Linked DNA regions of Homo sapiens: region 1 is linked to region 2. Evidence: fine-mapped expression QTL. A gene starts in region 2. The other region holds a variant in brackets. All regions are shown on one strand. Distances are between the middles of the regions. Region 1 overlaps DTD1 (D-aminoacyl-tRNA deacylase 1). Region 2 holds the start of DTD1 (D-aminoacyl-tRNA deacylase 1).

What was found.
Region 1: its variant is fine-mapped to the expression of DTD1 in whole blood (TOPMed, PIP above 0.99).

What each region holds. Positions count from the first base shown.
Region 1 is chr20:18,740,024-18,756,793 of GRCh38, forward strand. DTD1 (D-aminoacyl-tRNA deacylase 1) reads left to right here. Exons shown (of 6, transcript NM_080820.6): 5 at 4,077-4,248. The coding sequence ends at 4,229. Among named protein-coding and RNA genes, the nearest start is that of LCDR, 46 kb to the right of the region's middle. The variant C/T (reference allele first, on the strand shown) is at 8,928.
Region 2 is chr20:18,580,163-18,596,932 of GRCh38, forward strand. DTD1 (D-aminoacyl-tRNA deacylase 1) reads left to right here and starts at 7,892. Exons shown (of 6, transcript NM_080820.6): 1 at 7,892-7,953; 2 at 13,569-13,659; 3 at 15,844-16,079. The coding sequence starts at 7,911. LOC124904878 (a long non-coding RNA gene) reads right to left here and starts at 7,303. Exons shown (of 3, transcript XR_007067547.1): 1 at 7,263-7,303; 2 at 3,951-4,082. It also overlaps the pseudogene RN7SL638P. RefSeq lists enhancers at 5,063-5,357, 8,029-8,528, 8,369-8,428 and a silencer at 7,719-8,258.

The sequences.
Region 1 (16,770 bases), 160 kb after region 2:
AGGGGATAGGGTTGGAGGGGAAGGTCAGATGGATGTTTCTGCATCTGTGGTGTCTGTGCCTCTGCCTCAGCACAGAGTCGAATGACACTACGAGGAGCTGAGAAGCCTCCAGAGGGCTGTGCTAATTGGGGTTACTCCCCATCGTCCTCTCTGGATCTGGTTCTCAATAGCATAAAAGAGTACAAAGTGAAGAACAGGCTGGGTCACAAAGAGGCCTTTGCATGAGATTACTTAGCAAGGGGGAGGAGGTTTATTTAATTTTGTGACTGTTGATATTCACATTTTGTTTTTTTTTTGTTTTGTTTTGTTTTGTTTTTAATCTCTGAAGATGAGAAACAAAACTGAGAGGGCATCTTGCTTTTTAAAAATTGTACTTTCTCAGCATCTAATTTGGACCTGTTCATGAGTATTTATATATGTGTGTATATGTGTATGCATCTACACACAAGTAAGACATACAAGTATGAACACATGGATGCGAATATAAAATGTCAATTGCTGGCAGCAGAAGGCAGCTTACCACAATTTACTGCAGAACACCAATTTCAAGATATTTGGATTTTATGAATCAGGAATATAGAAAACAAAAAGAAATTGGGGAGTCTAGCATGGATTGCTAACTTATGATTTCCAAAATTGCTTAATTTTTTAAATTATAGTAAAATACACATAAAACTTACCATCTTAACCATTTTAAGTGTATAGCTTAGTAGTAATGGGTATATCCACATTGCAAAAATCCAAAATCTGTTTGCAAGAAAGGGAATGAGACAGAAGGAGTCCTGTATACTGTCCTTATCATTTCATCAAAGAAAGAGCATTTTAATACCAGAAGACAGACGAAAGGAAAGAAGCCTGTTATTTTAGATGCAGGAAATTCCTCCTAACCTGTGGCAGAATAGTCAAGAGAAAAATATTTTTCCATGGAAAAGTAATACTACAAAGAACTATGTAACAAGCAGCTCTGTGTGGCCATTTCTCAGATTTTAAAAATGCTAGCTTTTTGTCATCTTTGCTCCAGATCATTCATTCCTACTTAAAGTGCTGCTGCATGAACTGTTTGTTACCAGGCCATGGCGAAACAAAGAACAAAACTGAGACGGCATCTTACTTTTTAAAACTAAAATTGTACTTTCTCAGCATCTAACTTGGACCTGTTCATGAGTATTTATATATGTGTGTATATGTGTATGCACACTCACTGTCACCCAGACTGGAGTGCAGTGGCGTGATCTCGGCTCACTGCAACCTTCATTTTGGGCCAGAATGAAGTCAGCTACACCACAGAGCTCACAGTTGAGAAGAAATCTCTCACAATACTTTGCTGATGAAGGAAGCTATGTACTGATTTACATTCTGACACGAGCATCTTACTGTTGCTGGTCCAGGTGTCACGTGCATTTTGTGGAGTGCACTGATTAGTAACTCTGCTCTAGATCTGGTTTTGTTCTTATAAAGTTGATGGTTACAGTTGAAGCCTGTATATATTCATTCCACTAAGATCCCATTATCCTCTTTCCCCTCCATGTTAACTAGTGTATTGAAGTTGGCGTGTATTCTTCCAGGCCATACTGTATTTGCATGAGCTCACTAGCTATGTAGAGTATTATTTTGTGTTAGTGGAATCCTACTGTATATAGCCTTCTGAAGCTAAATTTGTTTTGTATAACATGATTTTCAAGATTTATCTATTTTTTTTAATTAAAAAAAATTTTTTTTGAGACAGTCTTCCTCTGTCACCCAGGCTGGAGTGCAGTGACATGATCTCAACTTACTGTAACCTCTGCTTGCTGGGCTCAAGCGATCCTCCCGTCTCAGCCTCCCCAGTAGCTGGGACTACAGGCATGTGCCACCACGCCTGGCTAACCTTTGTATTTTTTTTTTTTTTTTTTTTTTGTAGAGACAGGGTCTCTCTATGTTGCCCAGGCTGGTCTCAAACTCCTGAGCCCAAGCAGTCGCCCACCTTGGTCTCCTAAAGTGCCGCTATTGCAGGCATGAGCCACCACCTCTGACCAAGACTTGGCTATTTTGATATATGTAGATCTACTGTACAATATTGCTTTAGGGGACCAGACCACATTACACGTATCTGTCCTCCTAATGTTGATGGACATTTGGGTTGTTTCTAGGTTTTTGCAAATACAAATGACACTACAGTCCATGTTCTCAGAAGCCCCCACTGTGCACACAAGTGGAAATTTATCCAGGGGAGTTTTCGGAGGAGAGTTGCTGAGTCAAAGGTGAAGTGATGTCTTCATTCACAAAATCTAATTAGTATATTAACCAAACTTAGCTGTATTCTACAGCTTTTCAGGTAAATGGGGAGTAGGAAAGAATAAGCCAGGGGTCCTCAACCCCCAGGCCAGGGACCGGTACTAATCCCTGTGGCCTGTTAGGAACTAGTCTGCACAGCAGGAGGTGAGCAGCCTATGAACGAGCATTATCACCTGAGCTCCGCCTCCTGTCAGATCAGCAGTGGCCTTAGATTCTCATAGGAGCGGGAACCCCATTGTGAACTGTGCATGCGGGGGATCTAGGTTGCAGGCTTCTTATGAGAATCTCACCAATGTCTGATGCTCTGAGATGGAACAGTTTCATCCTGAAACCATCCCCTCTTCTGTCCCCCATCTCACAGAAAAATTGTCTTCTATAAAACCGGTCCCTGGTGCCAAAAATGTTGGGGACCACTACTATAAGTCAATTATTAATAAATTTGATTTCCTGGACCCAATTGAGAGCTACTGGTTGGTTGTTCATCTCTCGAAGGGTTAACTCAAAGTCTGTTCATAGTGGAAGAAATGATCTGGCAGATTGGGGGAAGTGAATCCTCTTTGTGTCTTGGATGTGGGGCAGGGACCAGCAGGGAGAAGCCAGCCCTTCAATAAGTTTCCTTCTTTTTATGTAAACTAGAAAAAGTTCACAGACTTAGTCTGGGAGGGAGATAAAACTGGGTATTGCTGTCTCTTGTGTTTTTTGGTCTAAGAAAATTCCGTGGTTCAAAACTTGGCCGGTCTTCTCTGCTGGGTTTCTCAGCAGGCTTTCCTGTAGTGGCTGGGCTGCTGCTCAGTGTTAGATGATGGAAGCTTCTTTCAGCCATCTAGCTGATGCTTTCTTTGAAGAACTATTCAGGGAAGAAGTGGGCCCAGGTTCCATTCGAGTGAGACATCAGGGGCATGTCCCCTGCTGGCCTGGTGGGAGCCTAAGAAGGCTCTAGTGGCCAGTGTCCTGAGTGTTGCCACCACGCAGCCTGCAAGCAAGTCAGCCTTCAGTCTCAAATCAACTGGTAACTGAGACGGTGTTCAGTGTGCTTAATGCACTTTGTTTCACAGCCTTCTCTGTAATCTTCAGCAAAGAGTAATGTGTTTTGAACATTCTTTAGAAAACACGTGGTGTGGCATGGTGGCTCACACCTGTAATCACAACACTTTGGGAGGCCGAGGTGGGTGGGTTGCTTGAGCCCAGGAGTTCAAGAACAGCTTGGGCAACATGGTGAAACTCTGTTTCTACAGAAAAATTGGCATGCACCTGTAGTCACAGATACTTGAGAGGTTGAGGTGGGAGGATCACTTGAACCCAGGAGGTTGAGGCTGCAGTGAACTGTGACCGCACCACTGTACTTCAGCCTGGGCAACAGAGTGAGACCCTGTCTCAAAAAAAAAAAAAAAAAAAAGAAAAGAAAAGAAAAAAGAAAACAACAAGTAGAAGGTAACTTGATGAGAAAAAAAACTATCAAAGAAAAAAGTAAGAGATGAAAAGCCTTCATATATGGAGCTCTTCTAAGGCTGTTGAAGAAGGCTGTGGCATGACCGCTCCCTCATACTGTGTGCCAAGTTGAATTATGGTTGGGGAAAAGTCTGAGAGTGATTACTCCTATGACTAATGATTTGTTTCAGTGATTCAGGTGCCTGTTGGAAAAACATTCTGTGTATAATTTGGTATATCTGAACCACTGTGCTCTGCCAGGTTATCAGAAAAAAACTTTTCAATGGTTCCCACCTGGGAAGTCACTGGTGTGTGGGATACACAGGCATGTGTTTGTGTTTGTAAAATATTCTTTTTTATTTTTATTTAATCAGCTGTCAAAGCTCGAAAAACAGCAGCAGAGGAAAGAAAAGACCAGAGCTAAGGGACCTTCTGAATCAAGCAAGGAAAGAAACACTCCCCGAAAAGAAGACCGCAGTGCCAGCAGCGGGGCTGAGGGCGACGTGTCCTCTGAACGGGAGCCGTAGCTCAGGAGGCAGAATTCAGGTAGGAGTTTCCCTGCTTGGCTTCATCTTCCCACATTTTGGGGAAGCAGCAATGAATAGGAGGGAATAGCTGCTGAGGCTGAATTCATTCATTTCACAGCGTTCATCCATAGCTTCCTTAAATCTGCTGCCTTCCAGGATGGAGACAAAAGTTAGTGTGTTAGTCCGTTTTCACGCTGCTGATAAAGACATACCTGAGACTGAGTAATTTATAAAGATAAAGAAGTTTAATGGACTCGCAGTTCCACGTGGCTGGGGAGGCCTCACAATCATGGTTGAAGGCAAAAGGCATTTCTTACATGGCGGCAGGCAAGAGAGTATAAGGGTCAAGCACTCCAGCCTGGTGACAGAGCAAGACTCCATCTCAAAAAAAAAAAACAAAAAACAAGTGAAAGGGGTTTCCCCTTATAAAACCATCAGCTCTTGTGAGACTTGTTCACTACCAAGAGAACAGTATGGGGGAAACTGCCCCCATGATTCAGTTACCTCCCACCAGGCCCCTCATCTTGAATTGTAGTTCCCATAATTTCCACGTGTGTGTTCCTACGTGGGAATTATGGGAGCTACAATTCAAGATGAGATTTGGGTGGGGACACAGCCAAACCATATCAGTTAGCAAATAAGATTGTATTTTATTCATTGAGATGCAGGAGGGTGGCATACCACAGGCCTGGGGTGCCCACCTGGGGGTGGAACCTGTTTGTGCCACCTTCTCTGGCTGCCTGTGCCAGTCCACAGCTGCTGCTGTGATTGCCTGTGCAGAACACTCACTCACCGATACAGAATCCAGATGCAGATGCAGAGTCCACTTGCGCTCCTGCATCTCCCTTCCTGCTCTTAGCCACTCTAGCAAAGGGCACTGCCATCTCAGCAGCCTACTTTCATTGCCACCTGCCCCGTGTTCTGAAATCCTTCACAGTGCCCCGTGTGGCACTGTGAGTTTACTTTTCCTAAAATGGCATTTTATTCTTATTGTGGCTCACTGTAGCACGGAGTCCACCTCCCTGCCTGAACATCAGAGGCCTTGAAAATGTGATGCGGCCATCTGATGGCACTGTGCCTAGTTCCTCCCACCAGGGAACCTGTTTATTTTGCCAAGCACTGGACCAAATACTGGGTGCAGATTTGAGGGACCCAGGACCTGTCATGGGGAGGTCACAGGCTCAGGGAGAAGCATAGGAACAGTTATACTACAGCACGGTGCGTGTGGCAGGAGTGTGAACAGGTGTGGGGTGGAGATGGGAGGTCAGGAGAGGCCCCTCAGAGGCCTGGGACCAGATCTGGAAGGACAGGTGGCAGTGGGGAGGCAGATGAGGGGCAAGGGCAGGGGAGAGCTGCCTGAGCCAAGAGAAGAGCAGTGCAAATGCCATCTGGAGGTTGGGGGGCAAGGACAGGAGAGTTTGGGAATGGAGGAATTGCAGAAGGGTGGGAGTGTTGAGTGCCAAGTGGAGTGGGAGGGCAGGGAGCATCTCTGAACTTAGAGAAATAGGAGGTCTGGATTGTATAGGGTCTGGTATGCAACCCTGAGGAATTTGGATTTTATCCTGGGGCGGGAGGGACCTCTGAAAGGTTTTAAGTGTACAAGTGACATCATCAGATACAAAGTTTAAAAAGAGCACTCACTTGAGCAGCTTTGGGGAGTGAGGCTGGAAGCAGATAGGCCCATTAGGAGGTGATTGCAGAAGTCCAGAGAAAAAATTATAGTAGGAACAGAGGGGAAAGAGTGGGATTGAAAGATGTAAAGGAAATAGAATCATTTCAACGTGGTGACTGATTAGATTGGAAGAGGAGACATCCAGAAGGATGAGGGAGGAAGATGGGGGTTGCTGACGGTACCTATTTTGGGTGTGTTGTGTTTGAGGTGCCTGTTGGCAGCCAATGGTGATGCCAGTCGTCTGCTGAGTCTGTGGCTTTAGAGCTGGGGAGCCAGGTCTCGGACATACAATTTGGAGCCTTCAGCTCACAGACTGTGGTTAAAACCAAGTTAGGAGACAGAATTCACCCAAGAGACACCAAATTATGATAGAAGAACATCCAGAAGGTGGTTTTCAGCCTTCTCTTTCTCTTCTGAAAGAGAGCAAGGGTCAGAAGTGTACCTATGAAATGGCTTTTAGGATCCACAATACCAGGAAGTGAGATATATTAGGCCAGGTGTGGTGGCTTACACCTGTAATCCTAGCACTTTGGGAGGTTGAAGTGAGAGAATCACTCGAACCCAAGAGTTTGAGACCAGCCTGGGCAACATGGTGAGACCCCCGTCTCTTAAAAAAAAAAATTAGCTGAGCATGGTGGTGCTTGCCTATCATCCTAGCTACTCAGAAAGCTGAGGTGGGAGGATTGCTTGAGTTTGGGAGTTGGAGGCTGCAGTGAGCCATGATTGCAGCACTGCACTCCAGCCTGGGTGACAGAGTGAGACCCTGACTCTTAAAAATAAAATTTAAAAAAGATACATTAGTTGTAATTGGGCACAGTGGCACCAGCTCCCAAATGGATACACAGACGAGAGGAACAGAATGGAGAGCTCAGGAAGGGTGGATTGTTGGTTCATAGACAGTTTTAGGGGAGGGGACTGGACAGTGAGTCCTGTTGTCCTCTTAACTGTTCCCTCATCACTGTGTTTTCCTGCTAGTGTTGTGCAGGGAGACAACAGCACTGTGGTGACCAGCCTTGGCTTATGTATCTCACGTATGCATGGGACACTGAAGGGTGCCTCGAAGGGAAGGGACGTCACATAAAACTTCCACTCCCACCCCTCCAAAACTTCATGATAATTCACTTTTGTTAGTGGTCAGTTTTGGCATCACAAATATTGCTGGTGCTTCTGATTTATAGTCTGTCCAGAAATCCTTAATCCAAAGAGGTGAAATGTGCTAAGTGAAGACAGGGCACAGAGTGGCCCTTTAAGATACTTTTTCAGTTGTGCTAGTTAAATGGGTCAAGCAGTAATTCAGAAACTCATCGAGGTCTTCTTTCCATCCTGCTAACTTTTGGGTGACAGTGAGTAAGTTCTATGGTTTTTCTTCTATTGGAGGAAAACTCATCTCCGTCAGCAGTGCTTTGTGGAAGGCAGGCAGGTAGAAGTCATGGTGCCTGGAACTGGCCCCAGCAGCCTGGGCAGGGCGGGGGCAGGCATGTTCCCTCCCCGCCATGTTTCTGTGTTTTCTCAGGCTTCTCTGGATCACAGGGAAGCATGACAGAGAGAGCATCCCAGCGCTGCTCCTGTTCCTTGAATGAAAGGTGCAGGGACTGTTACTGGTTAGGCCAAGTTTTAGTAATTACTTGGTCCAGAAGCAAAACTCAGATTGGACACTCCAGTTTCCACTCCTGGGGTTCAGGGCAGCTTCCCAGCCTTAATGCTCAGGCATGGCCCATGTCTCTTCTTCCAGTTCTGTTGAAGACTGTACTTAATAGTCTTTCCTGCAGTGAATTGGGACCTTAACAACAGGTTCAAAACAACTTGGGCTGGGCATGGTGGCTCACGCCTGTAATCCCAGCACTTTGGGAGGCCCAGGCAGGCGGATCACGAGGTCAAGAGATCGAGACCATCTGGCCAATATGGTGAAACTCCGTCTCTATAAAAAATACAAAAAAAAAAAAAATTAGCTGGGCATGGTGATGCGCACCTGTAGTCTCAGCTACTCAGAAGGCTGAGGCAGGAGAATCTCTTGAACCCAGGAGGTGGAGGTTGCAGTGAGCCAAGATTGCGCTACTGCACTCCAGCCTGGCGACAGAGTGAGACTCCATCTCAAAAACAAACAAACAAACGAACAAAACAAAACAAAAAAACAACTTGAATGTTCAGACTCCCATCATGAACTTAATGAACGGGAGAGGGAGAAACATACAAGCCCCTGTCTCCCAGCAACCAGACCCAGATTATCAAGCTAAACACACTGGCACGCATACACACACACACACACACACACACAAATACAAATTCACATGTGCCTTGGAGGTTTGTATTTTCAAAACAGCTTAAAAAATTCAAATACCACCTAGCTGATTCCTTCCTGGGTTGTATTATTAACCTAATACATTTTATAAATTTAATGTCTTGATTTTTGCTTTATATCTGATCAGTGCTTTGAAAATCTTTGGTTTAATCTATGACGGGGTATTGAGTTTTGTTACTTTTAAAATTCATGCAAAACATAACAACTTAAAGACTTCCATTTGCTTTAGATTTGGCCTCAGAGTAATTCCTGTAGAGAATACACCATGGATGTTAGTGTTCTGTGGCCCCTGGGTAGCCTGGGAGTAATTCTGCTAATTCTGTGGGCAAGAAAAACACCCGAGGGTCTCATGGGCAGACAAGGGGACAGTTACTGCATGTGTCACAGAACATACAGGAGAACACGCTCATAGAAGGAGAACTGAGCACATAAAAAGAAGGGCAGGAGGAGGGTGTGAACATTTCACATTTTTCCCCAGTGTCTAAGTTTACGAGGGGAATTCTCATGGACTCGTAGGTATCTACTTCTTGCTTCTCTCACGTTAATGACATTTTAATAATGTATTTATTTCCTTCTCACGGTAGTGCAGATTAGGTAGCATAGAACTTGGGGTCAGTGGTGCTATTGTGAATCACCCAAATAGGGCCAGCCACAGAGGGGAGGCAGCAGGGGGAGCAGACCCCACGGGAAGTGTTTGGAAAGGAGGAGGCAGTTGTGTTTTTCCTTC[C/T]CCTTCCCTATAAGTCAAGTTCACTGCAGCCATGCCATCATGGGGCCCTTGGGAAGAGGCAGGCAAAAGAGGAGGAAGAGGGCAATGGAGGGAAGTTCCTGGCTGGCCTCAGCCTTCAGGTTAGGAGACTCAGCGGGAAGGAGCAGAGGGACAGATGGAGGGGAAGCTGAAGGCCCCTGGCATGTTCTGGCTGTGCTCCAGGCTGGGATCCTTGGAGTGGGGGAATGGGGGTTGGGTTGCAGGAAACTTGGAAGCCGTGACAGGGATTCTGGAGGGAGAGCAGTGCAGGTGGCTCCAGGGCTCCAGGAGGCAGCTGCAGCCCAGTGAGGTAGCAAGACACGGTCAGGCCTCAGGGCCTGTGAGAGTGCTGCTCAGCATCGCCGTGGGGTGGGGAAGGCTCCAGAGGGTGTTCTCTGCCTGGTGGAGGGTGTGGAGGAAAGCTGTGTTGGGTCTGTGGGCTGACTCTCGGTCCTGGATAGAAGTGGTGAGGTGAGCCTGCTGCAGAAGCCATGAGGGGGCAGCTTCATTAGGAGGTTGGGGGTCATGGCCTCAGCTCTTCATAGCACTGACAGTCCCTCCAGGTCTCAGCTGTGACCTCCACTGGCCTCCTGGATGAGACTTGCAGGGGTCTGTCATTAATGACACCTGAGACTGAGTGAGATATGCTGGTGAGAACTGAGACGAGGCCAGGTCAGCCAGAGAGGGCCTTGGGTCCCTGAGCAAGAGACACCAAACTTCAAGTAGCCCACCGTCCCTCAGTGGTGCAGTGTCAGGGCCCAGGTGCTGAGCTGCACCAACCACCCTGCCACAGAGGACACTGAGGACCCAGAGTACTGTTGACATTAAGGTGAAATGGAGCCTCTGTCTGGTCAGGAACGCCCCTATTGCTACTCAGCGCATGGAGGCTCATGAACAAGTTTAGATCGGCCCATGAAAGACAGAGGCCACGTTTTGTTTATACCGATGTATATGGTACTGTCTGGGTTTTGGACAAAGCGCACAAGGAAAACCATTTATTGATGGTTTACCATAGGCATCCAGTTGTTCTTCTTTACGTCAGGGTCAGCAGTGACGGTGTCAGGCATGGACAGATGTCCAGGCAGGGAGGAGTCCTTCAGAGCCGCCCACAACTAGCCGAGGACCAGAGCGGGGCTGGGTGCTCCTGCTTCCGAGAATTTAGCCATGTTCCTGGATTTGAAGATCCTAAACGGGACCAGAACCAAGTGACAGCTGGCATTCCAATGATATATTTGGGGTTTTTTGTTGCCCGTGGGTTTTGTTCCCCCTTCTGATGAAATTTGTCATCCCAGTAGGCCACAAAATCACCACCAAATATTCAGATATCTATGAGAGCTGGATTAAATGGTGACAGACAGAAGGTGACCCTGACATTTGTTTTGTTCCCCAGAACAACAGCAGCCCCCTCACTATGAAGGGAGTAGCACTTTTCATTTGCTTTTCTTTAAATACAGAAAGAGCCCTAGGGAATCTGGCAGGCCCTAAGGGGAGCAGCTTTGAGTTTCCAAGGCACGAGAGAGAAAGAAAAGGCAAAAGAAAATTGAATGAGAAACTGCATGATCTTGGGCATATTTTTCTTTGAAAATGATTCAAAAGCCTTCATGGTTCAGAGGACATTTCCAGGGCCTTGACATTTCTCTGTCACATTGCAAATGTTGCTTCTTATTTTACCAAGTGGACATGAAACTGCTAAAATTAACTGTGTTTTTGTCCTCTGTCTCAATCCTTCGGGCTCTCTCACCTTGCTGGGAGGAGTTGAGGTTTTCTGTGAGGATGCAGCTCTATTATTTCTCCTTTCTGGCCACTGCTAAAGGCACTAGGGCCACCTCTCACTAAAATGATGTGGTTTCTGATTTGATTGCAGGGTCAAGTATTACCTCATTTGAGTATTGACTTAGCTGCTGTAATTAGGGTGTGAGAGGAGTGTGCTCCTGACTGGCACCCCACATTTCTGTCCTCAAATGGCAACACACTTGAAACCAAACAAGAAAGTGTTTTGGAAGCTGCCATCTGTTTGCTTTTTCAATGTGACCTTTGTCTGAATAGTAAGATGTGTCCTGGCTGAGCACACTTCTTCCTAATGAGCTACAGCAGCCGTGTGTGTGTGTGTGTGTGTGGGTGTGTGTTTTCTGTTGAAAAGGTATTCAGTCCCTTTTCACTGTTCTTTTCGCCATACAAGGTAGGACTCCTTTCATTCTCTGAGCTTCACTTTGCTTCCCTGTATCAACATTTGTACCACATTCTCATGTCCATGTGCTGGTATTTCATGGTATAAAACTAGCTGTGTCTCTGGGTAGTGTTTTTATCTTTTTTTAACTTAAAACAATTTTTTTAGTGGTTGCCCTGGAGTTTACAATATACATTTTTAACTAGTCTAAGTCCACCTTGAATGACACTCTACCACTTTACCTGTAACAGGCACCTTATAACAACAGCATATTCCCAGTGACATTGCTATCATTCATTTCACTTTACATATGTGATACTCACCTAATACATTGTCACTATCATTAACTTAAATAGTCTTTTTTTTTTTTTGAGGTGGAGTCTCATTCACTCTGTCACCCAGGCTGGAGTGCAGTGGTGCAATCCCTGCTCACTGCATCCTCCACCTCCCAGGTTCAAGCGATTCTTGTGCCTCAGCCTCCCTAGTAGCTGAGATTAAAGGCATGCACCAACATGCCTGGCTAATTTTTTGTATTTTTTGTAGAGATAGGGTTTTAACATGTTGGCCAGGTTGCTTTTGAACTGCTGGCCGCAAGTGATCCACACACCTCAGCCTCCCAAAGTGCTGGGATTACAGGAGTGAGCCACCATGGCCGGCCTTTGTTTTTGAAGGATAATTTTGCTGGTATAGACTTCTAGACTTGTAGTTTTTTTTTTTTGTTGTTGTTGTTGTTGTTGTTTTAATTTGCCTTTCTTTAAAAACACAAAGAGCCCTAGGAGCCTCACAGCCCTAGAGGAGCAGCTTTGAGTTTCCAAGGCATGAGAGAAAAAGAAATATTTAAATATTTTCAATACTTAAATTTTTATTCCTCTCTCTCCTTGTTTGCAGTTTCTTATGAGAAGTCCCCTGTAATTCTCATTCTTATTGCTCTATAGGTAAGGTGGGTTCTCCTTACCCCACCCCCAGCCCCCAGCTTCTTCAAAATTTTGTCTTTGGTTTTCCGCAGTTTGGATATGACGTGCCTAGGTGTGGTTCTTGCTTGGTATTTTCTGAGCTTCTTGGATCTGTGATTTGATGTCTGTTATTAAGTTTGGAAAGCTCTTGGCCATTAATACTTCAATACCCCTAGCTTCATTCACAATTTCCTCTCTGTTCTCTCTTCTCCTTTTGGTATTCCAATTATATATATGGTACATCTTTTGCAATTGCTCTACAGTCTTGGATAGTCTGTTCTTTTTTTCTCATTCTTTTTCTCTTTGTTTTTGGTTGGGAAAGTTTGTAATGACCTATCTTTGAGCTCACTGATTCTTCCTTGGCTGTGTCCAGTTTATTCATGAGCCCATCAGAGGCATCCTTCATTTCTGTTACAGTGTTTCTGATTTCTATTATTTCCTTTTGTTTCTTTCTTGGAGTTTCCGTCTCTCTGCTTACATTACCTATCTGTTCTTGCATATTGTTTACTTTTTCATTAGAGCCCTTAACATATTAATCATAGTTTTAAAAAGTTCCCTGTCTGATAATTCCAACATCTGTATCATAGTCCCAGTCTGATTCTGGGGATCTTTTTGGGTCCGCTGACCTTGAATCTGTAACTGTATGGCTTTCAGTACATTTGGGACATTTTAAGTAATATCTATTCAAATATTTTTGTCTGCCCCATTCTTCTTCTTACCTGGAGGTTACTGTTCCCAAACCTTAAGTGTCATTCTGGTTTTTTATTATCCATGAGGTTGGTTTGCTTCCTCACTGATGCAGAGTAGCATGTTATATTACTTTACTAGTAGTGGGACTGGATTTTCTCTATGCCCAGGCTTCCACCTCCATTACCTTATTTATTAGAAAATAAATTGGCCATTACCTTATTGATTAGAAAATAACTGGCCATGATTAGTGATTCCATCTATTGCTAAGGTGCAGAGCCAGGCTTACAAATAATTTAGAGTGTGCCATCTAATACAGTAGCTACTAACTGCATGTGGCTATTGAGATGTAAATTAAAATTAAATAAAATTTAAAATTCACTTTCTCAGTCTCAGTAGCCATATTTCAAGTGCTCACTAGCTACATACAGCTAGTGGCTGCTATTCTATCATTGCAGAAAATTCAACTAAACAGCACCAACCTGTAGGGATCAAGTTATGATTTTGATACTGTCATCTGAATCACTTTAAGTACTATAAGATTGACATTGGCTGGGTGTGGTGGCTTATGCCTGTAATCCCAGCATTTTGGGAGGCCGAGGCGGGTGGATCACCTGAGGTCAGGAGTTCAAGATCAGCCTGCCCAACATGGTGAAACCCCGTCTCTACAAAAAATACAAAAATTAGCCAGGTGTGGTAGTGTACGCCTGTAATCCTAGCTACTCAGGAGGCTGAGACAGGAGAATCGCTTGAACCAAGGAGGCAGAGGTTGCAGTGAACTGAGATCGCGCCACTGCACTCCAGCCTGGGCAATGAAGCGAAACTCTGTCTCAAAAAAAAAAAAAAAGACGTTGATATATAAATAAGTACAATATACATGAGAAATAATAGATGGGAGAATAAGTTAAAGCCAAAAAATAAAAGCCAATTGCTGTCAAGGTTTGTTCCTACCACTTTCAGGTAACATCAATTTTTTCTCCATGCTTGTTTTATTGCATTGCATTAAGCTTTCCATTCGTAATTAGGAAATCATTCTTTTCATGTTCTATCTGTGAAGTCAGGACCATCAGCTCTCAAGCAAAGGAAGAGATTCCGATTCTGGGGATCTTTTGACACTTCAGTGGAGGGAGCTTGCTGGAATCTAACAGTGCTAGAAGGTCAGAGTGAAGCCTGCATTGATAACTTCCCAGCATCTCTCATGTTTTTTGCATAGAACAGCCTTACCTTTCTAGGTAAATGAATTCTGATTTGATTACCAGCTAAGACCTGAAATAAATAGGTAAAAAAAAAAAATCTTGGTCCTTTTAACAGTGATGTGGAGAACAGATCTGTGGCATGTGTGTGTTTTGTCTAGCACTTGCATCCTGTGGTTGCTTAAATGGCCTGAAGCCAGAAGCAGGTCAGTTGGAAGTCAGTGTCTTTGAGGGTTTCAGTGTTTACGTGGGCTGTGAAGGGTTTCCTTTCTTCTGGTCCTGGTCTGGCCTCACTGGAGATGTTCCTCACTGTCCCTCGTGGTTGACGGCAGTAAGAGAACTACTACAGCAGGTGGAGGAAACTGGTGGTTCCCCTAGCTTCTTTCATAAGACTATGAAATTGTGGTGCTAAGTTATCAGGCACCTCTTACTACTGCCTGTCAGGTGTCCCCAGCCTCTGGGTCATGTCTGCCCTCAGTAGCTCATGTGACGCACATGCGTTTGGAAATAGACATCATCCCTTCAGTAGCTCTTAGAGGGAGGCACATTACCCCTTATCCAGGGTTTCTGAATTTCAAGCCTCAATGGTCCACCCTTTTCTGGAGAACCATGTGTTTAGCTTGAACAGGACTTCTGCTCAGCACTTCTAATTTGGCAGATGGACCTCACAGATAGCTCACTCCCACCTTCCTCATTCAAGCTTCCAGCTATGTGAGCTGCGTGGTCTCCAGCTACTCCCAGTTGATGGCCAGTAACCTGGCTCCTGGGTTATTCTATAGTTCAAGAAAATAGGAAGAGACATCTTTAGCAAGTGAGACTAGAAATAGAGAGCAACGTCTATTGACCAATCCATGTATTGTAGTGGGCGGTGGCTTTCAGCTGGAACAGTGTCCACTGCTGGCCAAAAATCTCTTGCATGTAGTTTACAAATCACTCATGATACTAACATTGATCTTATGATTAGGCCAGCCCATTAGTGTTCCCAGTAGTAGCACAGTTAATTCTAAAGGCATACCTAATGGATTGTCCTTCAGGTTAGATGCTTTATAAAGTTCTTATGCCTAGGAAGTTTACCTAAAAACTTTAAGAACCCATTGGCCAAAACCTCTCAGGATCCCTTCCAGTTCTGTGTTTCTCTAGTAGGGAATAGAAATTCCTAAATCATCTTTCTCATATAACATTTCTTTTGAAAGCCATTTTTTTTATTACAAAGTTAATGCTCACTCATAGAAAATATCAAAAATGCCAAAATACCCGAAGAAGAAAATAAAAGTCATCTGCCACCTTATCATTCTATGATTATTATTATTTTTTTATTATACTTTAAGTTTTAGGTCCATGTGCACAACGTGCAGGTTTGTTACATATGTATACATGTGCCATGTTGGTATGCTGCACCGTTAACTCGTCATTTAACATTAGGTATATCTCCTAATGCTATCCCTCCCCTCTCCCCCGACCCCACAACAGGCCCCAGTGTGTGATGTTCCCCTTCCTGTGTCCATGTGTTCTCATTGTTCAGTTCCCACCTATGAGTGAGAACATGCGGTGTTTGGTTTTTTGTCCTTGGCGATAGTTTGCTGAGAATGATGGTTTCCAGCTTCATCCGTGTCCCTACAAAGGACATGAACTCATCATTTTTTATGGTTGCATAGTATTCCATGGTGTATATGTGCCACATTTTCTTAATCCAGTCTATCATTGTTGGACATTTGGGTTGGTTCCAAGTCTTTACTATTGTGAATAGTGCCGCAATAAACATACGTGTGCATATGTCTTTATAGCAGCATGTTTTATAATCCTTTGGGTATATACCCAGTAATGGGATGGCTGGGTCAAATGGTATTTCTAGTTCTAGATCCCTGAGGAATCGCCACACTGACTTCCACAATGGTTGAACTAGTTTACAGTCCCACCAACAGTGTAAAAGTGTTCCTATTTCTCCACATCCTCTCCAGCCCCTGTCGTTTCCTGACTTTTGAATGATCACCATTCTAACTGGTGTGAGATGGTATCTCATTGTGGTTTTGATTTGCATTTCTCTGATGGCCAGTGATGATGAGCATTTTTTCATGTGTCTTTTGGCTGCATAAATGTCTTCTTTTGAGAAGTGTCTGTTCATATCCTTCGCCCACTTTTTGATGGGGTTGTTTGTTTTTTCTTGTAAATTTGTTTAAGTTCATTGTAGATTCTGGATATTAGCCGTTTCTCAGTTGAGTACACTGCAAAAATTTTCTCCCACTTTGTAGGTTGCCTGTTCACTCTGATGGTAGTTTCTTTTGCTGTGCAGAAGCTCTTTAGTTTAATTAGATCCCATTTGTCAATTTTGGCTTTTGTTGCCATTGCTTTTGGTGTTTTAGACATGAAGTCCTTGCCCATGCCTATGTCCTGAATTGTATTGCCTAGGTTTTCTTCTAGGGTTTTTATGGTTTTATGGCTAACATTTAAGTCTTTAATCCATCTTGAATTAATTTTGTATAAGGTATAAGGAAGGGATCCAGTTTCAGCTTTCTACATATGGCTAGCCAGTTTTCCCAGCACCATTTATTAAATAGGAAATCCTTTCCCCATTTCTTGTTTTTGTCAGTTTTGTCAAAGATCAGATAGTTGTAGATGTGTGGAATTATTTCTGAGGACTCTGCTCTGTTCCATTGGTCTATATCTCTGTTTTGGTACCAGTACCATGCTGTTTTGGTTACTGTAGCCTTGTAGTATAGTTTGAAGTCAGGTAGTGTGATGCCTCCAGCTTTGTTCTTTTGGCTTAGGATTGACTTGGCAATGCGGGCTCTTTTTTGGTTCCATATGAACTTTAAAGTAGTTTTTTC
Region 2 (16,770 bases):
TGAATCATGGCCCAGCTTCTTTCTCAGGGAGTGGGGCCCTGTTTCTAAGGGAGTCTGAGCAAGAGCGCTGAGTGCAGTCATGGACATGTCCGTCCCTTTCTGATGTCCCTTTCCCCCATGAGCCATCTCGGACCACTCAGATGAATGATGGATGGTAGAACAACAAAGCAGAAATAATTCAGTTCTGTGGCCTGTGGAGTACCATCCTAGCCCAGGAATTTATGAGAGAAAGAATCAACTTCTATGTAGTTTAAGCCATTGTTACTTGAGTCTGTTACAGTTTCTGTTGCTGTAAGCACATTACACCTCCTCCTTAATTTATTTTTAAAAAGCAAACCTGGCTAGGCATGGTGGCTCATGCCTGTAATCCGAGCACTTTGGGAGGCTGAGGTGGGTGGATCATCTGAGGTCAGGAGTTTGAGACCAGCCTGGCCAACATGGCGAAACCACGTATCTACTAAAAATACAAAAATAAGCCAGGCGTGATGGCGCACGCCTGTATCCCAGCTACTCAGGAGGCTGAGGCAGGAGAATCGCTTGAACTGGGGAGGTGGAGGTTGCAGTGAGCTGAGATCAAACCACTGCACTCCAGCCTGGGAGACAGAGTGAGGCTCCGTCTCAACAACAACAACAAAAAAAGTGAACCTATCTTTCCATGGCAGAAGAATCACCTGCGTTTTCTGAGCATCCATGCCTTTTGAAGAAGAGTATGTATCTGCTTGTTCACTAACGGCGTTATGTCTCTCAAATGAGAAAGTTCTTTGTGTATGCTCAAGCACTTCACTTGCACATGCCATTGTTCTTAGGAGTAAAGTATGTTTTAGACATTCCTGAAAGCCAGATGTGCAATACCTTCTTTCTTTCTTTTTTTGTCTGTGGACACTAGATTTTGCTATGTTGCCCAGGGTGGTCTCAAACCCCTGGGCTCAAATAATCCTCCTGCTTCAGCCTCCTAAAGTGCTGGGATTACAAGTGTGAGGCACCATGGCTGGCCTCCTTCTTTCTTATAAATCCAGTCTTCTGTAGTCCTCCATCTGTGTTGCTTTCTTCACTATGGTAACCCAGGCAATTACTCTTCCCATCAATACTTGCCTGTCCTTTGAAAGTAGGAATATATATCTATATATCTATATCTATATATATATATATATTTTTTTTTTTTTTTAATAGTGACAGGGTCTTGCTCTGTGACCCAGGCATTATAGCTCACTGTAGCCTTGAACTCCTGGGCTCAAGCGATCCTCTGCCTCATCCTCCTGAGTAGCTGGAGCTACAGGCACACACACCCATGCCTGGCTAACTTTAAATTTTTTTTGTAGAGACAGTCTTGTCATTTTGCCCAGACCAGTCTCGAACTCCTGGCTTCAAGTGATCCTCCCGCCTCAGCCTCCCAAAGTGCTGGGATTACAGATGTGAACCACTGCACCTGGCCTACATTGGTGTTAACATACTTCAGCAGGCCAGTTTAGCAGTGTGTATCAAAAAGGAAAATGGGCACAACCTTTCACCCAGCAATCCCACTTTCAAGAACTTAAAGAGATAAATGAAGAGCTGTAGGCAGAAGGTTCTTCATTGTAACTTGTTCAAAATGACACCGAACTGAAATCAACCTTTTGAGAGACACTCCCGGCTGTCTTCCCAACATCCACTTCCCCCATTCCTGCTTTATAACAGACCCCTCAATCCACCCCACCATGTGCTTCAGGGGGACTAGCCTAGCTCCAGAGGGCAAGTCCTGATTGGTCCATGTCAGTATTTCTCAAAGATGGCACTGCTGGCATTGTGGACAGGATGATCCATTCTGTAGGCTGCCCCAGGTGTTGCAAGAGCTTGAGAATTTCAAGTCCCCTGGACACTGAATGCTACCAACAGCCTCCCAGGTCCAGATTTTCCTCCGTACACACATCTCGTGCACCCTGGAGAACTGTCTCCCCTGCAGGTGAGAACCTCTTGTCTGAGCCAGTCTTGGGTGAGAGTATGCCCCGTCTCCCTTACCAGTAATTCGCATAAGCATGGTGGTGTGACCTCATCCTGGCGAGTTAAGTAGGAGGGCCTCTGAGCAAGATATCCTAGCTTCAGTGGAAGGGCCAGGAAGAGATGGTCTGCTGTTCATCAGGACATTGTGTCTGGGTGGGGTGCCTAGAACAGCCACAGCCATCTCTCAGGCTTGTGGGGTGCCCGAGAAAAGCCAACATGCTGGGGTGACAGAGCAGAAAGAGGGAAAGAACTGGGTTCCTGATCTTGGTTAACTTTGGAGCTGCCTTGTCAGGTCAAATATATTTCTTCTTTCTCTTTTTCCTTTTTTTCTTCTCGTGGCACAAAGCACACAACATACAATTTACCATGTTAACCATTTTATGTGTGCAGTTCAGTAGTGTGAAGCATATTGACATTGTTGTGAAACAGATCTCCAGACCTTTTTAATCTTGCAAATCTGAAATTCTGTACCCATCAAACAACAATTCCCTTTCTCCACCCCCCAGCCGCTAGTAACCACCATTCATCTTTCTGTTTCTGTGAATTTGACTACTTCAGATATCTCATGTAAGTGGAATCATACAGTATTTGCCTTTTTTTGTGACTGACTTATTTCAAGTAGCATAGTGTCCTTAAGATTCATCCATATTGTAGCATTTGACAAGATTTCCTTCTTATTAAGGCTGGATAATATTCCACTGTATGGATATACTATATTTGTTTATCCATTCATTTGTCAACAGGCATTTGAGTTGCCTCCACCTCTTAATCATTACGAATAGTGCAGCTTTGAACATGGATGTTCAAATATTCTTTGAGAACCTACTTTCAATTCTTTTGCACATATACTCAGCAGTAGGATTGCTGGATTATATGGTTGCTGGGTTATTACTTCTATTTTTTATTTTTTGAGAAACCTCCATATTGTTTTCTATAGCAGCTGCACCATTTTACAGTCCTATCAATAGTGCACAAGGAGGGCTGGGCATGGTGGCTCACATCTGTAATCCCAGCACTTTGGGAGGCCGAGGTGGGTGGATCACAAGGTCAGGAGTTTGAGACCAGCCTGACCAACATGGTGAAACCCTGTCACTACTAAAAATACAAAAATTAGCCGGATGTGGTGGCGCGCGCCTGTAATTTCAGCTACTCAGCAGGCTGAGGCAGGAGAATCGCTTGAACCTGGGAGGCGGAGGTTGCAGTGAGCCAAGATTGTGCCGCTGCACTCCAGCCTGGGTGACAGAGCGAGACTCCATCTAAAAAAAAAAAAAAAAAAGTGCACAAAGGTTCCAATGAAATAACACATTTCTTTTTTTGAAATGGAGTCTCACTCTGTTGCTCAGGCTGGAGTGCAGTGGCATGATCTCGGCTCACTGCAAACTCCGCCTCCTGGGTTCACGCCATTCTCCTGCCTTAGCAGGGCATGGTGGCAGGCGCCTGTAGGCCCAGCTACTCGGAAATAACACATTTCTTAAAAGTTTGAGCCATTTTGAGTTCCATGCAACGAAAAAACATCCCAACTGATCCAGACCTAAATATTCGTCAATAGAAAAAATTGTTTAGGGGAATTACAATGCATATATTAGCTCTTAGCATCTGCACATCTATTAATAGAGAAATACTGTAAATCCATGATACACTGTTAAGCCAAAAAATTGGCTTCTCACACTTATTCCTTTGGCAATATTACCTGAGCCCCAGGTACTGTGTTAGATGCTGAGGATTCAGTGGTAAGCATGAGAGACACAGGTAGAAGAACACAGCTTACCAGGCAAATAGACTCATTGAAAGTAGCCAGAAGATTATGAGAGAAAACCCACAGGACAAACATGAGAAAAACAGGGAGCAGGAACACCTACTTTTCTTGGTGTGGACAGAGAAGGTCTATCTGAGGAGGTGGCATTGAAGCTGAATACCTAAAGGCAGGAGAGGAGTGTGTTGTACAAAGAGTGAATGAATGTAGAGGAACCTACCTGTTCCAGGTGGAGCAAGAGCAGATCCTAAAGTCCTGAGCTAGCAACCAAAGACTATTTGAGGAATTTAAAGGTGGTCAGAGTCTGGATTGTTAAGACTTTATATTCTAAGAGCATCACTTTCATCTGTGCCTGGAGAATGGATTGGAGAAGGACAAAGGGGAGGTAGGAAGACCAGTGAGGAAGGTGTGGTAGAAATCCAAGTGGGAAAGAATGGTGGAGCAGGATGCTGCAGGAGGGATGGAGAGAAGAGGGCACTTTGGGATAGGTTTTGGAGAGGGAGAAGATTTGCTGATGGACGAGATACTTAGGGAATGGGGAAGAGAGCAATCACAGGTTACTTCTGGCTCCAGTAAACAAGTGGAGCCACTTATTTAAGTGGGGATTTTCCAGGTGCGATGGCCCATGCCTGTAATCCCAGCACTTTGGGAGGCCACGGCAGGCGGATTACTTGAGGTGAGGAGTTTGAGAACAGCCTGGCCAACATGGTGAAACCCCATCTCTACTAAAAATACAAAAATTAGCTGGGCATGGTGGCAGCACCTGTAATCCCAGCTACTCAGAAGTCTGAGGCAGGAGAATCACTTGAGCCTGGAAGGTGGAGGTTGCAGTGAGCCAGAACGAGCCATTGCACTCCAGCCTGGGTGACAGAGCGAGACTCTGTCTCCAAAAAAAAAAAAAAAAAAAAAGGTATGACTCTTATGGTGGAGTATGAAGGGCTTCGGGGTTCATTGAACACCAACTGGTGAATTGCAGTTCAACTCTGGCAGGAATCACCTGGAGTTAGAACAGATCCTGCAAGTTTAAGGGTACGTTTCCCAAAAAGATTGCCCCTATTTCAGGTGCCAACCACACTTGGGTGTCCCCAAACCACTTGCACTTCAGACCAACTGGCTACACAGTCAGGAGTATCCATGACTCCCTAGGGTTGATAATGCACTAGAATCACTCATGGAACTGAGGAAAGTGCTGTAATTATCATTTATAGTTTTATTATAAATAATACAAATTAGGACCAGTCAAATGAGATATGTTAGGCAAGGTCTGCGAGAGTACCAAACACAGAGCCTCTGTGCTTTCTCCCTGCGGAATCAGGGCCATTACCCTCCCAGCACATCAATGTGTTCAGCAACCAGGAAGCTCAATGAAGCTTCAATGTCCAGAGTCTTTCCTGGGATTTCATCATGTAAGCATGACTGATTGAATCATTGGCCACAGGTTGAACTCAATCTCTGTCTTCTACCCCTCCCACAGGTTGGGCTGGCTCAGACATCCAGTCACTATTGGTCTTTCCAGTGACCAGCTCCCAATCTGAATTGTCTTGTTAGTAAACTCAGGAATAATCAAGGAGCTCATGAATAACAAAGATACTCCTGTCTCTTGAGAAATTCCAAGAATTTTTAAAGCTCCATGCCAGAAACCCAGAATTAACAAAGGCCAAAGTCTTTATTGTACCATAGGGGTGAACATTTTGAATTCCATTTTAAGTATGTTAACTTTTTTTTTTTTTTTTGAGACACAGGTTTACTTTGTCACCCAGGCTGGAGTGCAGTGGCAGTGATCCTGGCTCACTGCAACCTCCGCCTCTCGGTTTCAAGTGATTCCTGTGCCTCAGCCTCCCAAGTAGCTGGGATTATAGGTGCCCACCATCACGCCTGGCTAATTTTTGTATTTTTAGTAGAGATGGGGTTTCACCATGTTGGCCAGGCTGGTCTTGAACTCCTGACCTCAAGTGATCCACCTGCCTCAGCCTCCCAAAGTGCTGGAATTACAGGCGTGAACCACCACGACCAGCCCAATTTTCCCTTTTTTAGTCTTATTCTTTCAGGAGTGCACAATGGAGTTTTCCAGGGGCTCCGTGACATATAGTGACTTCATTGCTCTGATATTCATATGTAGGGGATTTATTATTGCTATTTTTAAATGCATTGATAAATCCATGTTAACTATTTCTCTTAGTTAAAAACAGTAAACATTTTTAGATATAATCCACCTAAACAAAAGCTATACTTTGTGCCCAATAATTTTTAAGAATGTAAAGGGATCCTGTGATCAAAATATTGAGACCTGCTGATTTTTCAAAAACTCAAATTTTACCAGTTGTTCCAATAATAAGCTTTTCCTTTTCTTGATTTTTCTGGCCAGGATACCACCCAGGTTAATTTAGTTTTCCTGTCTTTTTTTTTTTTTTTTTTTTTTTTGAGACAGAGTCTTGCTTTGTCACCCAGGCTGGAGTGCAGTGGCACGATATCGGCTCACCGTAACCTCCGCCTCCCGGGTTCAAGCAATTTTCTTGCCTCAGCCTCCCGAGTAGCTGGGATTACAGGCATGCGCTGCCATGCCTGGCTAATTTTTGTATTTTTAGTAGAGACGGGGTTTCACCATGTTGGCCAGGCAGGCCTCGAACTCCTGACCTCCAATGATCCGCCCACCTTGACCTCCCAAAGTGCTGGGATTACAGGTAGTTTTCCTGTCTTTTAAAAAGTCCACGGCTGGGCGCAGTGGCTCATGCCTGTAATCCCAGCACTTTGGGAGGCCAAAGCGGGCAGATCACCTGAGGTCGGGAGTTCGAGACCAGCCTGACCAACATGGAGAAATCTCATCTTTAATAAAAATACAAAATTAGCCGGGCGTGGCGGCGCATGCTTGTAATCCCAGCTACTCAGGAGGTTGAGGCAGAAGAATTGCTTGAACCCAGGAGGCAGAAGTTGTGGATAGCCAAGATCACACCATTGCACTTCAGCCTGGGCCACAAGAGCAAAACTGCATCTCAAAAAAAAAAAAAAAAAAAATCCTCCTTAATTCTCGGAATCCTACCTGGTTATTTTGTAGAATGTTCCTCAATTTATTTTTGTCCTATGTTTCATCATGATTGGATTCAGGTTATACATTATTTGGCAGAAATACCACAAGATTGATGTTGTGTCCTTCCCAGTGCAATATCAGGAGGCACATGATGTCTTGTTACTGGTTATGTTAACTTTGACAACGTTATTAAGGCAATTTAGTATTCAGTATTTAACAAACAAGCACACTAGTTTGTAGTCTTTTCTGGGCAAGTGAGGGTTTCTTCTCAATTTCAGTGCCTTTTCTACGCCCACCAATGCTATTAGTCACCTTTAAGGTGAAGACTGCTGAGATGGAATTATTTTTAGCAATGATAATAATTTGTTGGGGTAATAGTTGTACAGCCCTTTGCTGCCATCTAAGCACTTTTACGTGGTTTGGTTCATTTAAATCTAACAACCCAGTGAGGGGGCCAATTAGTAGCATTTATATTACATGAGAAATTAGAATTCTAGAATCACATACCTATTTATTATCATGACATGGCTAAGTCGAATTAATAGTGAGATAGGTAAATGGCTATTTTAGGCAGCAGATCCTTTTGTATGTGGTATCTGAAAAGCCACTGAGGCAGGAAGACAAGGAAGAAGAATTTGGGAGGATCTGCGTGCAGAGGAGTGGAAGAGGAAAGAGGAATACAATTAGAAATAGGATTCAGGCTGAATTTAAAGGCTTAGTGATGACGGGTTCTTAGGTTCGGGTATGTGGGAGAAAAAAACCAGCATAGAGACTACCTTCGGGGCAGAGTGGGTTCTGGGCACTGGGTAGGGGCTGGGCCCGGGATGGGGGGATCAAAGGGCTCTGGCGGGACCCAGATGTGGATGGGGCAGGGCCGAGCGTGGGGACTGGGCTTTTCAATGACGGGCGGGGTTACGGTTGGGCAGCAGGTGGGCGTGGCAGGCATAGGCGGAGTCAATCTATGAGTGGGTGGGCCTATCGCCAGGCCGAGAGTGGGCGTGGCCGACGTGGGGTGGGTAGCAGCCGACCGAGTCGGACCGGCCAGTTGGGCGCGCTTCCGGGTGTCACCTCCAGAGGGCGCCGGCTGCGGAGCCGCCCTCAGAGTCGCGAGGCCGGACGCAGCGCGGCGCCGCCCCACTCGCCCCAGCCGCCGCCATGAAGGCCGTGGTGCAGCGCGTCACCCGGGCCAGCGTCACAGGTCAGTCGGGCGGGGCCGGGCCCGGGAGGAGCCGCCCCTGACCCCCGCGACCGGCTGTCTTGCGTGGGGGGTCTTCCTGCGCCATCCTTGGGGCCGCTGCGGCCCCTCCGCGAGCCTGGTCCCCTTCGCGAGCTCGGTCCGCGCAGCCGCGAGTCCCCAGGGCCGGCTTCGGGGCAGCGCGGCGGCCGGAGAGCCCCCTGCACGTGCCCGACCGGCCCCGGCGCGCCCCTGGCTTCCGGCTCTCGGCAGAGGGTGCAGGACCAGCGCGCCTCATTCTCAGCACCTTTGTCCTGCGTGCGGGATGGCGGAGCCTCGGAGCATCTCCGTGGTCCGCTCTTCAGGGAGTGTTGATGAACCACGCTTAGAGCATTTCCGGAGCAGGCACTCCTCCCTTTTCACTGCTGTATTTTAAATGTTCAATTTTTGCCCATTTTTACGTATTCCAATTTTTATGGGGCTTGACTCAGGATGAAATGCACAGATGCGGAGAGTTGCTCCTTGGGCTGAGCTTTGACAGTTGCGTGCACGTACGTGACTGGAGCCTAGGCTGGATGAGGGGCGCCCCCTGCCCAGGACGCCCCTCGCCCTCGCCCGCTGAACTCTGCGCGGAGGGGTCGGGATCTAAAGAATTCAAGATGAAAACATTTCTCTTTTTCTTGTGGACCAAGCTACCCGACCCCTGGTCATCACTCAGCACTTTCGTCTCGGTTGGGCATCAGAGGTCCAGATGATTAGTGTAGATAAAGTAGTCGTTTTAAGAAAACCACGGTACGAAAGATATTTTTTAAAAAACATTTAAATGACAAGCTTTATATTGTCTTTAGTCTTTTCTGTCTTTATTGGCACAACTATATTGTTTCAGTTCAAATAATTTCAGATATCCTGTCCTTGGAGCCAGTCTGCACCAAATATGCGTTCTTGTGTCCACAAAAGTATGAATTAAAAACAAAACAGGCCGGGGGCTGTGGCTCACACCTGTAATCCCAGCTCTTTGGGAGGCCAAGGCGGGCAGATCACCTGAGGCCAGGAGTTCGAGACCAGCCTGGCCAACATAGAGAAACCCTATCTCTACTACAAATACAAAAATTAGCCGGGAGCGGTGGTTGGTGCCTATAATCCCAGCTACTCGGGAGGCTGAGGTAGGAGAATCGCTTGAACCCGGGAGGCAGAGGTTGCAGTGAGCCGAGATTGTGCCAGTAACCTCCAGCCTGGGCGACAGAGCGAGACTCTGTCTCAAAAAACAACAAACAAACAAAACCCCAAAACAAAAAACAAAACAAAACAAAAACAACAAAAAACCCTAAAGAAACAACCAAACCCACCAAAACCGTATATTTAAATCTAAGAGTCTATTTTTCAACCCCGCCTAATGATTTCTAAGCTGTTCTGGTAGCTTTGGTTTTGGAAATGGTCCTGGAATAATAGGGAATAGAGTAGCACTGGGATTTAGGAATTTTAAAGCTTTTATAACATTTCTGTAGATATTTAAATTCATGAAAACTGGGAAAATTCATAGATGAAAGATGTTTTGCATTATTGAGAAGAACCTTGCAGTCTGCTGCTGTGTGTGGTCGTCACTGACAGATTTAAATTTTGATCTCTCTCCTGAACTCTCCATCCTGCTAATCTGGAATATTGAAAATGTGTATTCTGTGAGATGTGCTGAATAAGAGTTTGGGTTATTTTGGTTCACTATTTAAGTTATATGCTTTCAGTTAAAACAACCAAACCTGCATATTAAAAAAGATAAGGGTGTTAATTATGGGAAAGTGTAAATAATTCGGGAATTCTGGGTTGGGGAACTGTGGAATTCTGTTAGAAGGGCCCTCCACTTATGCAGGCCTTCTAGTTGCATTGTAATGGAAAGGGATTTTCTGATTCCTTTAAAATGTGGCTGGTTTCACTGAAATGTGGCTGTGTTTGAATGGCATTTTATTTTAGGGGTTCTAAAATGTTAACTTCCTGTTTTATGGTCAGGACAGCATAGATTATCAGGAGTCACACATTTTATTTTATTTTAAAATAGTTGGTTGACTTCACATTTATTTTAAATTTATGCATTTATGGTTTGTTTGTTTTAGAGATGGGGTCTTGCTCTGTCACCCAGGCTGGAGTGCAGTGGCACTATTATAGCTTACTACAACCTCAAACGCTTGGGCTCAAGTGATCCTTTAGTTTCAGCATCCTGAGTAGTTAGACTACAGGCGTGTGCCGCCACCGCTATGTCCAGCTTAGGAGTCACACATTTTACTATGTGGTATATTCAATTTATGTGATTGGTCAAACACATTTTTTTTTATAGTAACCCTGTAATATCATTTGATGCCCAGTCCATCAGATTTCTCCAATTGGCTAATTGGTTTTGTTTTTGTTTTGAGAGAGTCTTGCTCTGTTGCCGAGGCTGGAGTACAGTGGTGCCATCTCTGATCACTGCAGCCTCTGCCTCCTGGGTTCAAGCGATTCTCATGCCTCTGTGTCCTGAGTAGCTGGTCTTACAGGTGCGCGCCACTGTGCCTGGCTAATTTTTTTGTATTTTTAGTGGAGACAGGGTTTTGCCATGTTGACTAGGCTGGTCTCAAATTCCTGGCCTCAAGTGATTTGCCTGCCTCGGCTTCCCAAAGTGCTGGGATTACAGGCATGAGCCACTGCACCCAGCTTGATCAAACACATTTTGATGCCTTAGGTTGGGTACTGTGATAATCTAATTTTTAAAAGTTTATTATGGCACATTTCAAACATATTAACAGACGGAATAGGGCAATAACCCCCATGTCCCATCATTCATTGTCAGCAGCTAAAATTTGATGTCTGTGAACAGTGTTGGAAGAGGATCTAAAATGTTTGGGTTTAACTAGGTTAACTTCAAAGGTTATGAATTCTTGAAGTAGAGATCTCAGGTCTGATGCCACTAGTAGGTAGAAAAATTGACCAAACATCTCAGTCTTTTCCAGCCCTTTGATCTTTTGTTCAAAGTGGTGATTCTCAGATTTTTTCCCTTGGTGATCCATTTACTTATAATAAAAAATCCTTTTGAATCTCCTAGTCCTTCTACTTGTCCCTGGAGGGGGGACAAAACTGCTCCAAAATAAGACAGCAGTCTCTGTGTCATATATAGACTTTGGGCCATAATTTGTTTCATGTTAAGATAATTATAAAACTGTCAAAATTCTTTGACAGTGATTCTAGAATCTAAGCAGATAATCCTAACTGTAGAAAAGGCTTTAGTGTACGAAGATTTTCACTACACTGTTATTTACTGAGGTGAAAATTTTGAAAGAAGCCATATGTCCAGCAAGATGGAATGGTTAATCAGTCTACTTGATGAGCTGAATCTATTAAAAGGTGTTTAGGAAAAGGTTATGACATGAAAAAATTCTTATGCAATATTATTATAAAAATTTATATGCAATGTTATTATAGTAGTTGAAAACAAATATGAATTAAAATGTATGAATAGATACAATATTAAAAGGAAATCATTAAAATATTAAAGTACTTACCTTTGTTCTTTTTTTCATGTTTCTCATATTTTCTAAAATATATAATCCTTACTTTGATGATAGATATAACTTCATGACCTTTATTTTTTAAAACATACTTTGGGAAAAATTTAGAAAGTATATCAATATTGTAAGAAAGTAATGTTGATTTATTCAAAGAACAAATAAAGCCAAAGGCTTTTTCTGAAGCAATGCAAATGAGCAAACCAACCCCCAATTGTTTACTGCCTATGTCAGGATAGATTATTTCTATTTCAGCTTTTGAGGCAGTGGCTCAAAGGACAATAAGTCACACACACATAGTTCATTATAAGAAAAGCAGCACAGAAGAAAAGATTTAAAAAATTTTAGCCTAAAAATAAAGAAATTAAGCATTACTGATATTTCAGGAATGGATTGATGTGCTCTGCTGGGATCTGAATAGCAGGTGGTCTCTTGCCATTGCAACTGAAGAAAGAGGGAAGTTTCTCACCCTTTCTTTAGCAGTGTATTGTAACATGACATAGTCTATGTTACTGTGTTAGTTATATTTATAGCTATTACCCTGCAGAAGCAAGCAAACAGCAAGAAAATGGCTGAGGTGACCCTTCTATTCCGATTAGCACATTAGGTCAGTACAAGATGAAGTAGTAAAATAACATAATCTAATAAGATTGGCAAATAATTGGCAAAAAATAGAAAATTTTCAAAAGCACCACTTGAAATACAGATTTAGCTGGGTATGATGGCGTGCATCCATAGTCCCAGCTACTCTGGAAGCTGAGGCAGGGAGGATTGCTTGAGCCCAGGGGTTCTGGGCTATAGTACACTATGCTGACCTGCTGTCATACCAAAGTTCTGCATCAATATGGTGAGTTCCCAGGACCAGAGGACCATCAGGAGGGATGGACCAACCTAGGTTGGACATAGAGCAGGTCAGAACTCCTGTGCTGATTAGTAGTGGAATTGCACCTGTGAATAGTCACTGCACTCCAGCTTGGACAACATAGAGAGATCCTGCCTCTTAAAAAGAAAAACAAATGAAAAAAAAAACAGGGATTCTCCATCATAAAGATGCATCTTTTTTTTTTTTTTTTGAGATGGAGAGTCACTCTTGTCACCCAGGCTGGAAGGCTGGAGTGCAATGGTGTGATCTTGGATCACTGCAATCTCCACCTTCTGGGTTCAAGCGATTCTCCTGCCTCAGCCTCCTGAGTAGCTGGGATTACAGGCGCCCGCCACCATGCCCGGCTAATTTTTGTATTTTTATTAGAGATGGGATTTCGCCATGTTGGCCAAGCTGGTCTCGAACTCCTGACGTCATATGACTGCCTGCCTCAGCCTCCCAAAGTGCTGGGATTACAGGCATAAACCACCATGCCCGGCCCATAATGATGCATCTTGCTACCATTTGAGGTATCGTCTAGTGGTAGTAGGGCATACATTTGGTTATAAATACATATACAAATGTTAGGAGTGTGTGCTTAGAGCCTTTTTTTTTTCAAATGGACAAGATGCATGATTGAAAAATATTTGGAGATCATTGGCTTAGAATGTAACCACAAAACTAAACTGGGAAATAATAGCAGTTTGGTGAGTTGAAGCTTAATACATAAATTGTGATTTTTATGTATTATGTATTTGTCCTCATAGTAAGTAGGAAAATCATTTATGATATGAACATTTTCCACTTTGTGCTTCCTGTATACTGTGTTACCATATTTTTTGATATTCTGCAAAAGGCAGGAATCTCTTTTCTGAGAATTAATATAGCTGAGCTGGCTTCTCTGGGGGAGGAAAACACAGTTCTGTTTTTATAGATGGGCAAACTTGACCATAGAAAATTTTGGGTGTCTTACCCAAGGTAACATAGATGAAATATGGCCCTAAGATCCTGCTTAATGGTTGTTCACTTTACAGCTCCCATTCATTCCAGAGATAAAATCAGAATGGATGGGAATTATTATCATCTCACTGCATTTATGTAACTCTTTTCATTTTCGAATACGTACTGACTTTAACCAAAGAAGTTATAAGAAGTATGTATGATGTTTAAAATACTCCTATGGTTACTTAAAAGTGCTTTATGACCTTGTTTGGTTCTGAGTTCTTCTCTCCCTTTTGGTTCCTTTCTAGTTGGAGGAGAGCAGATTAGTGCCATTGGAAGGGGCATATGTGTGTTGCTGGGTATTTCCCTGGAGGATACGCAGAAGGAACTGGAACACATGTAAGATGCATTTCTGTCATTGCTGTTTGAGTGGGCTATGTGGTGGTGGTCATGCTGGGAACTTCCATAGTACTTTGTGCCTGTGAGGTGAGCCCCTGTCACTTTTAACCATTGTCCCATTGGATGTAGTATGGTTATCTCCGTGTTTCAGAGAAGACCGAGGAAGAATGATTTAGGAGACCTCAACGCTAAGTCAGCCTTTGAGCAGGAGCACCGCCTGTCCCCTGTCTGTTTGCTACTGTGGCCTCAGAGCATGCCTCTTGTTCTCTTAACGCAAAAACCAAGCCTCTTTTCTTATGTTTGGTTTCTCTTTTTTAAATTGGGCAGTTATCTGGGCACTATGTATTTTTAGAATGTCTACTAGCTCGCTGTGCACATAGGGATCTAGAACTCAGAGAGGTTAAATTGCTTGCCCCAGATCATGCACACACACTTAGCAAAAAGCCTGAACCCCAGTTAGAGTCTGGGCTCCCTGACCTTGAAGCCAGTGATCTTTTTACTAAGGTGGTGGCGGGGGTTGAGGAGCAGGGGTTGCCATTGCTGCTGCCTGCCTGGCTCTCTGAGTTTATAGATGGGCAAACTCGACTATAGAAAGGTTTAGGTGTCTTAGCCAAGGCAGCACAGATGAAATATGGCCCTAAAATCCTGCTTAATGATTGTTCACTTTATAGCTCCCATTCATTCCAGACATAAAATCAGAATGTGCCCTCTGTGCACCTCCTCCCCTCCATTACCACGGGGCACATTTACTTTAGATGCTGGATCCATTTATTCTGCCCCTTGGTGCTCAGAGCTTGGGTATAACCCTGCCCAACTGATTCTTTTGTGTTAGATTGAAAATCAGACTTGAAACTGAATTCCTGCTAAGGTGTTGATGATGGATAACTATCATTCAATACTATTTCAGTGATGGTGGTATTTTAGTAGCTGTCCTCTGGATACTCAAAGAAGTGGTAGAGTGGTGTAATGGCTAAAAACTGAGGCTGTGGGTTTGAATGTCTTTATGGCTCTGACATACTACAGAGCTAATACTTAGCCTGGTGCTTAAGAGATGTGATTCAACATAAGACAAATCTTGGCTGTGGAGAGGGGGTAATGAGTAGCACCTGTCCCTGAGGGTGCCCATATTAAGAGTCAGTTAATTAGTATTTATAGAGTCTTTGAAACTGTCATCTACTTAACATCATCCAGAAGGGTGGCTCTCAAATGGTGAGATTTCAGCTTTCATGCTGGTGGTTCTCTGCTGTGCTTCTCAAATCTGACCCTATAGATGTCACCTGGTCAACTTTCTTGCCATGGTGACTATCCTTCTTCACATGTATAGGGAAAGCCCCTCTGGGGCTTAAGGAGCTTGTGACATAGTTTTCAAGGTGTCTTTCTCCAGATCTTTTTGCATATTTGCAATAACCATGATTTTTCTCTCAGTGTATTTGCTGAATTGTTCTTTCTTTTTTTTTTCTTTTGAGACAGAGTCTCCCTCTGTCACCCAGGCTGGAGTGCAGTGGTGCAATCTTAGCTTACTGCAATCTCTGCCTCCCTGGTTCAAGCGATTTTTGTGCCTAAGCCTCCTGAGTAGCTGGGATTAAAGGCGCCCGCCACCATGCCTGGCTAACTTTTGTAGTTTTAGTAGTAGAGATGGGGTTTCTCTATGTTGGCTAGGCTGGTCTTGAACTCCTGAACTCAGGTGATCCACCCACTGTGGCCTCCCAAAGTACTGGGATTTCAGGCATGAGCCACCGTTCTCAGCCGAATTGTTCATTTTGAGTAGCTCCAAGAAGGGGTTTAAAAATGGATGTCATTTATCCTAACATGATGAATTCGTTCATGAAAAATTACAATTGGACCCATGTTTTGACATATCCCCGACCTAAAGGAGCAGAGAATAGGTGGTTGTCATCTTAGCCCCAGTTCTCACCAGTAGCTGCTATGAACTGGAGCGACTGGCAAAAAAGAAGCAATCTCAAAACAACCGTGTGAGGTAGAACTGTTATTATTCTGTATCGCAGCTGAGGACACTGAAGCACAGGGTGGATAAGTGACTTGCCTGAGGTCATGCCTCCTGTCAGGGATGGAGTCATCATTATGTCCTTATTTGACCGGAAGCTGGTGACATTTTTGGGGTATGGAGTGTGTTGGGGGGCTTGTGATCTCTCAGGTAGCTCTCACTGCTCTTTTTCCCCTTAGGGTCCGAAAGATTCTAAACCTGCGTGTATTTGAGGATGAGAGTGGGAAGCACTGGTCGAAGAGTGTGATGGACAAACAGTACGAGATTCTGTGTGTCAGCCAGTTTACCCTCCAGTGTGTCCTGAAGGGAAACAAGCCTGATTTCCACCTAGCAATGCCCACGGAGCAGGCAGAGGGCTTCTACAACAGCTTCCTGGAGCAGCTGCGTAAAACATACAGGCCGGAGCTTATCAAAGGTAAGCAGGAGAGCCACATCCAGGAACGGGTCTTTGGGACACTCCTGGATGGAGAGAAAAAAGAAGCTGCAACTGCAGCATCTCCTTTTCTGGAAAGTCATTGTTTATGCTTGTTACTTACTTAGAACCACATACTAGCTGCTGCTATTGCTGCTGTTGTACTTAACACATGTCCTCAGAATGCTTCTGCTGGCATTTGCCCTCCTCCCTTCTTCTGTTCACATTTTGAAAATGTTTGGGAACCCAGAGGTGTGGCTAATACAGTGGTATTTCTTTGATTGTTTAGCTTAGCCCTGTCCAATAGAAGTATAGTGCAAGCCTCAAATGTGAGCCAAATATGTCATTTTAAGTTCTTGTAGCCATATTTAAAAAAATAAAAAGAAATAGGTGAAATTAATTTAAAAAATATATTTTATTTAACTGAATATATTCAAAATATGATTTTACTATGTAGTCGTTATAAACAATGATGAGGTAGTTTACATTCTCTTTTTTTTTTTTCTAAATAAAGGCTTTATTTGATTAGAGCAGTTTTAGGTTCACAGTAAAATTGAGAGGATGGTACAGAGATATTCCATATATCTCTGCCCCCGCATGCATAGGCTCACTCATTATCAACATCCACCACTAGAGTGGTGCATTTGTTACAACTGATGAACCTAAGTTCATTGTTGGATTATAACTGTTGTTC